Linked DNA regions of Homo sapiens. The protein of the gene in region 3 interacts with the protein of the main gene of each other region in a biochemical or structural test. Each region holds a gene or a part of one and is shown on either strand. Other genes may lie near its edges. The genes, in order: TRPM4, SLC8A1 and S100A8.

Region 1 (3,652 bases), on a different chromosome or scaffold from region 3:
CGTGGAGGCAGGCACCTGTAGTCCCAGCTACTCAGTAGGCTGAGGCAGGAGAATGGCGTGAACCCGGGAGGCGGAGGTTGCAGTGAGCCGAGATCGCGCCACTGCACTCCAGCCTGGGCTACAGAGCGAGACTCCGTCTCAAAAACAAAAACAAAAACAAAAACCAAAAAAAAAACAAGGGGGCACAAGGACATATGGCCATTAAGCTTAGGAAAAGATGTCCAACCTATCTGGTAGTCAAGAGTGCATAAATTATAACAAGGAGAGGTCATGTTTACCCATTAAATTGGCAAATTTTTTTTCAGTTAAATTGAGAGCTACATTTTAGAGTGAAAGTATCAGGCATTGTCGAGCATGGCCTCAAGGGGGCACTCTCTTACCCTGATGGCAGGTGTGGAAATGAGTGAAGCTACTTAGAAGGAAATCTATCCATGTCAAAAATAAATGTACCCTTTGACCCATAAACTTTACATCTGGGATGTAAACTTTTATTATTTTGGAATAATAAAAAAACAGAAGGCTGAGCATAGTAGCTCACGCCTGTAATCCCAGCACTTTGAGAGGCCAAGGTGGGAGGATTGCTTGAGCCCTGGAGTTTGAGACCAGCCTGGGCAACAGAGTGAGACCCTGTCTCTATTTAAAACAAAAAAAGAAAGAAAGAGAGAACCTAAATGTCCATCTAGAGGGAACTGGCGAAACAAAGGATGATTCATCCATTCAATTCCGGAGATGATTAGACATTTCTCCCTTTTTTTTTTTTTTTTTTTTTTGACAGAGTTTTGCTCTTTTCACCCAGGCTAGAGTGCAGTGGCATGATCTTGGCTCACTGCAACCTCCGCCTCCCAGGTTCAGGCAATTATCCTGCCTCAGCCTCCCGAGTAGCTGGGATTACAGGCGCCTGCCACCATGCCCGGCTAATTTTTTGTATTTTTAGTAGAGATGGGGTTTCACCATGTTGGGCAGGCTGGTCTCAAACTCCTGATCTCAGGTGATCCACCCGCCTCGGCCTCCCAAAGTGCTGGGATTACAGGCATGAGCCACCACGCCAGGCCCGTTTCTCCCTTTTAAGCTGAGATCTTTCCATTTTTCACCTGGAAAGTGGTAGGCTTGATAAACTGTCCAAAATATCACTGGCAATCCTAGAGCATGGTAGCATATGGCCTTAGCCCTTTCATCTCAAAAGTCACTTTATACAAAATACAACAAATTACAAACAGAAGTATTAGTGTTCTGCAAAACTCTCATATCTTGCTCCCTGCTTGAATAAATTATTTATGTTGAATCACTTTGTAACACTGCTAACATAGCTTAGAGGAAGCCTGCCTCTCAGCGTGTCTACTGGGAAAAGCTTGAGTAGGGATCATCACTGTCATCACTGTCAACCATTCAGGATGTGTCAGGTCCCTTGTAAACAGTCACCAGGTTGTTGGCCAGGCACGGTGACCCACATCTGTAATCTCAGCACTTTCAGAGGCTAAGGCCAGTGGATCACTTGAGGCCAAGAGTTCAAGACCAGCCTGGTCAATATGGCAAAGCCCCATCTCTACAAAAAAAATACAAAAAAAATTTAGCTAGGTGTAGTGGTGCATGCCTGTAATCCCAGCTACTCACGAGGCTGAGGCAAGAGAATCGCTTGAACCCAGGAGGTGGAGGTTGCAGTGAGCCAAGATCGTACCACTGCACTCCAGTCTGGGCGACACAGCGGAACTCTGGCTCAAAAAAAAAAAAGAAAAGAAAGAAAACAAAAACAAACAAACAAACAAAAAACCAGTCACCAGGTTGTATCCACAAACTTTTCTGTTTGCTCTCCTCAAAAGGAGGAGTATCCTAATGCAGGATACTCCATAATGCAGGCAGGGCAAGGGTTAAACCCTTAGCTTGGAGGGATGGAAGGAAGCATAGAAGGAAGGAAGGAAGGAAGGAAGGAAGGAAGGAAGGAAGGAGGGAGGGAGGCAGAGGGGCAGAGGACAGAGGGAGAGAGAGAGAAAGAAAAGAGAAAAAGAAAAAGAAAAGAAAGGAAAAGAAAAGAGAAAGAAAGAAAAGAAAGAGAGAGAAAGAAAGAAAGAAAGAAAGAAAGAAAGAAAGAAAGAAAGAAAGAAAGAAAGAAAAAGAAAGAAAGAGAAAGAAAGAAAGAAAAAAAAAGGAAAGAAAGAAAAAGTCGGGGGCAGGAGGGCAAGGGGCCTGGGACCAACGAGCTATGTGGAGGAAGAGAAGGGAGGAGGTGAGGTTGGCACCCAGGTCGGGGCGCTCCCATAAATATCTGTTAAACTTCAGGCCTAGCAATAAATAGCAGCAGAGGCTGAGTGGCGGACAGTGGGGTTTTCTCCTGAATCCTGCCGTCCCTGAAGCCAGATCTCCAGGTGCCAGCCAATTACCCTGGGGCAATCGTCATGCCCGACTTTCCTAAGAGGGGTTCTCAATCAGCAGGGTTGGCTTGACCTGCTGCCCAGCTGCGGGGAAGCCGGGAGTGGAGACCCCGGGAGTGGGCAGGAAGGATGAGAGGTGGCCAGGGGCCAGGGTTCCAAGGCCCCGGGGCACTCACCGGCAGCCCACGCCCAGGAGGAAGCAGGTGAGAGCCACTAGGTCGCACTGGTTCCAGCTGTCGGCGAGGTAGAGGCGCAGGCGCTGGCTCAGTGAGGCATGGCCAGGCCCGGGGCCCCCGCTGGCGAGGCTGCCCCCGCCTCCGCTCAGGCCCTGGCGCAGTTCCTCGCACAGCAGCGTGAAAGCCCAGAAATAGAGCAGCAGCTCCAGGGAGCCGGGCGGCGCCGGCTGGAAATCCACGAGCAGCACCCGCGAGAAAAGCAGCAGGAACAGCAGGTAGCTGACCACGTTGCCCATGAAGATGGTCACCGGCGCGCCCCAGAAGTGGAACCAGCGGCGTAGGCACCGGCGCCCCCCGCAGCGGCCCCCGCAGCAACCCGGACGGCCCGACTGGCGCGGGACCCCCAGCGGCGTCTTCTCGGCTGGGTCCGCCGTCCTGTGGGGGAAGAGAAGAGAAGGGAGGAGGCCTCACTCTGACCTCTGAGTCCTGATCTCCACCATCATCGAGACTTTTGGCTTGGCACATCTCACCCTGCCTGACCCGAAACTCAGTCTGCCCAGAGCTAATTTCTTGGGTTTTGACTCTTGTATCTAACCTCTGACCTCTGAAATCTCCGGTCAAGAGGTGGATTGATCGCTTGAGCCGAGGAGTTGGAGACCAGCCTGGCCAACATGGCAAAACCTCATCTCTACAAAAAATATTTTAAAAATATACCCGGATCGGGCGCGGTGGCTCACGCCTGTAATCGCAGCACTTTGGGAGTTAAGGCGGGCAGATCACCTGAGGTAGGGAGTTCGAGACCAGCCTGGCCAACATGGTGAAACCCTGTCTCTACTAAAAATACAAAAATTAGCCGGGTCTGGTGGCGCATGCCAGTAGTCCCACATACTCGGGAGGCTGAGGCGGGAGAATCGCTTGAACCTGGGAGGCAGAGGTTGCAATGCACTGCAGCCTAGGCGACAGAGTGAGACTCTGTCTCAAAAATAATAATAATAATAATAATAAAATAAATAAAAATAAAAATTTAGCCAGTAGTAGGGGCAAGCACCTGTAGTCCCAGCTACTGGGGAGGCTGAAATGGGAGGATCACTTGAGTACAGGAGGCCCAGG
Region 2 (3,652 bases), on a different chromosome or scaffold from region 3:
AGGCATAGCAGTGGACTCAACCACCATGGCCTTAAGTCCACCCACCAGCTCAAGCAAAACTCTACTCAGACCTTACATCCCTTCTGCTTCCAGAACCTGGGATGGAGGTGAGGGGAAACTGAAGTAGAGGAAGGTCTGCTCCAAGTCAAGGTGACTGTCTCCCAGGCCTTGCAGGATGGACTAGTTATGACATCAGATAAAGCAGCAATAGGAAGAAGCCCTGAGTCAGAACATACCCTTATGTCCTGGAAAAAGTTAAAAGAGGAACTGGATTACAGGCTTTCATAGCTTCGGGCTGGCTGAGAGCCACCCCACATTCGCCTACACTCTCTGGCTCATGTTTGCTGCTGATGGCTTATACTGCAAACTGCACCAGTGCCCAGGAGAACACCGCTGCCTAGGACATTCTGGCAGACCCTGAGAGATCCCACCATAGACTAAAGCCCTTTATAGCTCATCACTACAGGGAGATAAGCTTCTTTGACATTTTTCCCATACTAAAGAAAATCAGAGGAGGGTTATAGCAGTAGAATTCAAAACTAAGTAAAAGGCTGAAAAATAGAGGTAGCATATTTTCAAAATATGCAAAAGTTCTGGTCAGTATGTCTGCTTGTTCAGTCTTTGAAAGGCTTTGAGATTTCTGCTTGAAACAAGGTGAAATTTAACCATCCTGCAAGAATGTTGGAAGATCTAGTTCCAACTCCCTTGTGTATCCATTTCATCCACAATATTTATGCATGCTTAATATGTATTTTAGAAAGACTTACTAGTCTGTCTTCTAGATCCTGAGAATTCACCAGTGATAAAACAAAGTCTCTGTCCTCACAGAGCTTATATTCTAATGGTGGAGGAAACAAACAAATATAAATATCAGAAGGTTAAAAACTCCTATGGTACATGTGTGTGCAGAACAATCTATAGAGGACAAGGAGAGTGTGAGATTGTGTGTGTGTGTGTGTGTGTGTATGTGTCAGTGTGTATACACGTGGGATGCATGATTTCATACTAGATGGTTAAGGAAGGCCTCTCTGATAAGGTAACACTTGAGCAAAGTCCTGAAGGACACGAAAGATCAAGTTTTGTGGATATCTGTAGGAAAAGAATTCCAGCAAGTGCAAAGGTCCTAATGGGAATCATGCTTGGCACAGTCTAAAAACACAGAAAACCAATGTAGCAAGAGGGTAATGGACCAAGGGGGCAGGGCTCAGGAGTGGGAATGGATCAGAGAACACTGAATTGCCATAAGGCATGGGCTTTGATGGGGTAGAAGATGAGAATCACTGGGAGGTTCTAATCAGAGGGTGATATGATCTGATTTTTCTTTTAGAAGGATCTCTCTGCTGGTTCAGTGCAGAAAAGACTGAAGGGGCAAGGGTGGAAACAAGGAGACCAGATTTTGCCTACTATATAAAATCTAATTTATAAGTGATCCCAATACTTGGCAGGTATACAAAATGGTACAGAAGATATTTAACATTTAAAATGGTGAAAGAAATGTCTTGGGGACCTGAAAGAATCAGAAAGGTGAAATATTTGTGATAAATAGTAGTACTGAACATAAACACTGAAGGGAGATTCAAACCTGTGTCTGTCTCCAAGACTGATATAACTAACCACTCCCTTCAAATTACTGCCAAATCGCATCATTCCATTCTTCACGTTTCAGCCAAAATGAAATTCCTAAAGTGCAGATCTGACACTCTTCACGTCCCTTAAAACTCTTCATTGGTTTCCCACTTCCCTGAGGACAAAGCTCAAACCCCTCAACAGGCTTTCTAAGACCTTTTATGATCTGGCATCTGAGCTCCAGAATATGGAAATTATTCCCATTCCCTGAACAAGGTAACAATTTCTTACATCCAAGTCTTTGCAGATTATTCTGTGTCCAAAACTATTTTGCTTTTTCCTTCTTAGAAGCAAGTTTCAAAAGAGCTGAACACCAAATTATAACCAATTTCCTGAGAGAATACTAGATTCCATTCTTAAACAGTCACAGATACCATGCTAAATTGTCTCTATACATATCAATTATATTTAATATTTCCATTAGCCAGCATTGCTGTTATAAAATGCCTAGTGTTGCTATTTCCATTATAGTCCATGAGAACAGCACCCCTGGAGATGTGCAATGCACAGTACCCTAACAATAATCCTAAATAGTAGGTACTATTAGCCCATTTGGAGGTTGGATAACTGAGGCTTAGATAGGTTAAGTACTTGCTGAAAGTCATACAGACAGTAAACTCCTCAACTAAGACCCAACCCCTGGTCTTTTTCCAAGACTGATATAACTAACTGCTCCATTATATCATCCCTGATAGTGTGTGAAGTAATCTTTGAGAACTATTGGGGTTGGCTTGGACTAGCCCGTTGGAAAGCCTCTTGGCTTCCATGCAGGGTCAGGAGGGCCTAGTTAGCAAAAGTCTTGTGGAAGGTTTCCAATAGCCTGGCTTTTATCTTATGCATTAGACTCAAACAGACAAGCATCAATAACTGTGATGTAACATGAGGGCTAGCATGTTCCTAGAGACAGCTGCCCTTCAATCTGGTCTTTTAGCAATTGCCTGGCAACCTCTTCCTGCATGCACTGTCAGGGCAATCTCCTGGGCCAGCCAAGAAAAAGCCCTGCCCTTTATCCCTTCCCTAGCCCACATCCCACAATATGTTCTTAGCCAAAAGGTCACCAGATGTCTAAAGGTAGACAGGTCAGTAAAAATCCATCATCATTATCAGAGAAAAAGGAAGGGGGCTTCCGGTGTTAACTAAAAACATTACAATTATATTCAAAAGAGAGCAGTATTATAATTTGTGAACAGTGGACACAGCACACTGATGTAGCTTATTGGCAATGAAGCAATTGGAAAGAACTCTCTGGACTTAAATTTCTTTTTCTTATTAAATTAATACCAAATTCAAATGCCCACGAAGATGTGGAATAGATGTTATCTAAATGTGAGTTCCTTCTTCATCCTTTTGTTTTCTTTCTTTCGGGGTCTTTCCTCTATCATCAGATTCAAAGTAGTTCTACTAAACTCTCCCCATTTTCCCTCAAATATACATTTCCATACAAATTAAGCAGAAAGATAAGAATAGAGACTGTGGATATGTTGATTTGCTGCCTGGCTTTCTTATATTCTGCCTTAATTTACCAATACAAAGTATAGGCTGATTTTTATGGTGGATTCAGATCAACTCGTACAACTGTGAGCAGTACTAACTTAAAATATCCATTACATCATGAAATGAGACTTTAGCACAGTATCAAGAATACCCAAATTATCTTCTGATCACTATTTATTTTAAAACAACACACAACCCATCACCCACAGATTACAGACCCAAATGACACTGACAAAGGATGGTAAAAAGATATCCAGCTGTGAGTAGTCCAGCCAGTTGTGTCGGAGGAAGAGGTCACAGCTACAAGGAATAGAAACCCACATCTACAAGAGATAGATCCAACTGCTTTGTAAAGGAAGAGGGAGAGCTTTTGGAGCAGAGGCCTGAAGAGTGGTTGGCAGCACGGTGACCATTCCCTGCTGGAAGCTATAGCCAGTTTTGACTACCAAGGAGGACGTGACTCAGAGCAAAGGCATATGCTGGCATTCCTAACAGCCCAATATATTGGACAGTCATCCTAATGGCATCCTCT
Region 3 (3,161 bases):
CAGGTGTGAGGATTATCCTGTTAATGGAGGACTCTGAACATTGTCCACCTACATCACACCACACACACAATCAGCCTCTCCCCCCTTCCCTCTCTTGCTCTCTTTCTGTCTGTCTCTCTCTCACACACACACACACAGACACACACACACACACCCACACACTTCTATGTAGCTATCACTCTAATTTCCCAAGAGCCACATCTAAGACATTTAGCTGGAAGCTAAAATTTAGCTTAGAGAACAGTATCAGTTGTTCTTATACTACCACCCTGTTCCCAAATCCCCGACCCATTTCAGAACCACTAGTAAAATCATCAGCTATAGTGTCATGGACTTTTTGGAATCCTTAAGCCTCAAATCCAATGGCTCAAGATGGAGGGGCTGGAAGGGAATGTGGGGCAGAGGCCAGGTGAGGGGTAAAGCAGGAAAGGCTTGTGAGAGGTAGGGTGGGATAACATAGATTTCTTTTTCTTCCTTTGGGTTTTCCAACCCTCCCTCCACACCGAGGAACCTCATTCCACAAAAGCATAAGAGAGAGGCATGAGGTATTGATGACTTTATTATTCTGCAGGTACATGTCCAGGGGCCCAGCCTCTGGGCCCAGTAACTCAGCTACTCTTTGTGGCTTTCTTCATGGCTTTTTTTGTGGGCTGCCACGCCCATCTTTATCACCAGAATGAGGAACTCCTGGAAGTTAACTGCACCATCAGTGTTGATATCCAACTCTTTGAACCAGACGTCTGCACCCTTTTTCTGTCAAGATTGAGGAGGAAGAAGCCAGAGTTTAAAGATCTCAGAGAGAGCCGAGGCATAGCCATCTATGAAGGGTGGCAGGGAGGACCGCTGGCCCAGGGCAGCCCCAGGACCAGGCAGAGAGCCCCCGCCACACCCAGCCCCTCCTCACCCTGATATACTGAGGACACTCGGTCTCTAGCAATTTCTTCAGGTCATCCCTGTAGACGGCATGGAAATTCCCCTTTATCAGGGAGTACTTGTGGTAGACGTCGATGATAGAGTTCAAGGCTTTCTCCAGCTCGGTCAACATGATGCCCACGGACTTGCCCCACCTGAAAAACAGAACCTTCTGGGGAATCCCATGGCAGGGAATTTGCATCTGGCCAGGGCAGTACGCAGAGGATTCATGCCCCAAGCGATGGCCTTGTCCTGGCCTGCACTCTCCAAATAACCAAACCAGCAGATGGCTATGGCTCTGGTGGGAAGGGTGGGATGATAGGGATACACGTGTGGGAAGGGGAAGGGTCCATTCACACAGAGACATGTGCACACACACGGGGCCCGTAGACTTTCCTTACCACCCCACCCTCTGCTCAAGAAAAGTCCAGCCTAGGAGACAATGTGCCCTTACCCACTGGAAGGTGCTGGAGGATACTCTCCTTCCTTATCCCTGCCTCACTCCCCACCTCCAGGAGTATCTTTGCTCCAGACCTCCCTGAGCTTTCTCTCTCCTCTCTCAGGAAGGCTGCTCCACTTCCCTGACCCTCCCCAAGAGAAGCCCAAAGTGCGGGGCCAACCCAGACAGTCCCACTTACCAGGTCTTCTGAAAGACAGCTGACAAGAGACATGCAGGGCTGAGAGGCAGCTCCTTTTTATAGCGGTTAGGCTTGGCCAGCTGCCCACAGCTTCAGGCCATCAGAGACAGCTTCTCCCTGCCAGAGTTGCTACAGTCTCTGGTTTCTCAACCAGGTGAATGTGGCAATCACTGTGCAGAATGAAAATTTTGGGTGGGGAGGTAGGAGAAGCGGAAAGAGGAAGGCATTTGCTGGGCAATAGTGCCCAGAAGGAAAAAGCAGGTAGGGGGGCTCTTTTTCTGGGCTGCTGGCATCCACTTGCTTGATCCAGCCAGATTCCCACTCCCATGCCCTCTCCACTATTGCGATTGCTAATCCCCTGCATTGGTGGTCAGGCCATACATCCCTGAAACTGAATTGAAGTTGAATGCATCATTTTGAGTGCATGCACTCAGTGAGAACATTCCTCCATGGCTTCTGTCAGAGTTTCAAAGGGTCCAAAGACCGCAAAAGGGTTGAGAACACGTGTCCTGGCTGATGGCTTTTAGTCATGAGAACTATTGTTCTCATTACTAAAAACTAAAACTATCGTTGTTGTTCTTTTGGGTGGGTGCTTTGTGGGGAAATGTGTTGTTGCCAAGGGCTATATCCATTCCTACCCTGCTGCCCACACTCCTCCACAGCTTTCCTGTTCTGTGAAGCTGGGGATGGACCATGCCCTGGGAGATGGAGGCTGCTTGGGGTCCCTCGGCACTTCACAAGGGCCTGAGCCATTGCATAAACACAGCAGGGAGCCTTTCACCCTCTCTTGGTTAATTATTGTGTCTGGGACCCCAGGATCACTGGCTGAAGAGAGGAAGCTAACTCTGAGGTAGTGGAGGGGAAGAGTTCTTTGGAGAAGCCAGACGCGCTTCATGCCTAAGAGGAGAAGAGGAGGTGGCCAATTCCCCAGGATTTCAGGAGGAACAAATCCTCTCCCCACCACTAACAAAATGCTACTCAGATTAACTGGCTTCCAACCTTGAAGACTGTGGTGTGTTTCTGTTGTTACAAAGAAAATATTTGTAAAACAAATATCTGATAAGGGATTAATATCCAGAATATAAAAGAATCCCTACAACTCAACAACAAAAAACAAACAAACCAATCAAAAATTGGGGAAAAGACTCAAATAGACACTTCTCCGAAGAAGATATACAAATGGTCAATAAGCATATGAAAATTACTAATCTTTAGGAAAACATGAAGCAAAACGACAATGAGATACCACCTGACACCTACAAGGATGACTACTACTTCTTTTAAAACCCAGAAAACAAGTGTTGGTGAGGGCATAGAGAATTGGAAGCCTAATGCACTGTTAGTGGGAATGTAAAATAGTGCAGCTGTTATGGAAAACGGCAAGTTTGTTCCTCAAATAAATAAACACAGAATTACCATATGATCCATCATTCTGCTCCTGGGTATATATGCAAAAGAATTGAATGCAGGGATTCAAACAGATGTTTGTACATTCATGTTCATAGCAGCATTATTTACAAGAGCCAAAAGGTGGAAGCAACCCAAGTGTCCCTCAACACATGAATGGATGAAGAAAATGTTTTGTGGGGACATGTGTTGTTGCCGAGGGCT

Evidence for each region.
Region 1: the proteins of S100A8 (region 3) and TRPM4 interact in a biophysical measurement, tested with the Homo sapiens proteins (one large-scale study listed by IntAct).
Region 2: the proteins of S100A8 (region 3) and SLC8A1 interact in a biophysical measurement, tested with the Homo sapiens proteins (one large-scale study listed by IntAct).

Annotation. Positions count from the first base shown.
Region 1 is NC_000019.10:49,195,765-49,199,416, reverse strand, and holds part of TRPM4 (transient receptor potential cation channel subfamily M member 4), read right to left. Parts: intron 2,978-3,652; coding exon 2,543-2,977; intron 1-2,542. UniProt on the Homo sapiens protein: Calcium-activated selective cation channel that mediates membrane depolarization. While it is activated by increase in intracellular Ca(2+), it is impermeable to it.
Region 2 is NC_000002.12:40,431,460-40,435,111, forward strand, and holds part of SLC8A1 (sodium/calcium exchanger 1 isoform A precursor), read right to left. Parts: intron 1-3,652. UniProt on the Homo sapiens protein: Mediates the exchange of one Ca(2+) ion against three to four Na(+) ions across the cell membrane, and thereby contributes to the regulation of cytoplasmic Ca(2+) levels and Ca(2+)-dependent cellular processes.
Region 3 is NC_000001.11:153,389,491-153,392,651, forward strand, and holds S100A8 (protein S100-A8), read right to left. Parts: upstream 1,551-3,161; intron 1,487-1,550; exon of another isoform or gene 1,367-1,486; intron 1,085-1,366; coding exon of another isoform or gene 1,046-1,084; coding exon 905-1,045; intron 754-904; coding exon 613-753; 3' UTR 542-612; downstream 1-541. UniProt on the Homo sapiens protein: S100A8 is a calcium- and zinc-binding protein which plays a prominent role in the regulation of inflammatory processes and immune response. It can induce neutrophil chemotaxis and adhesion.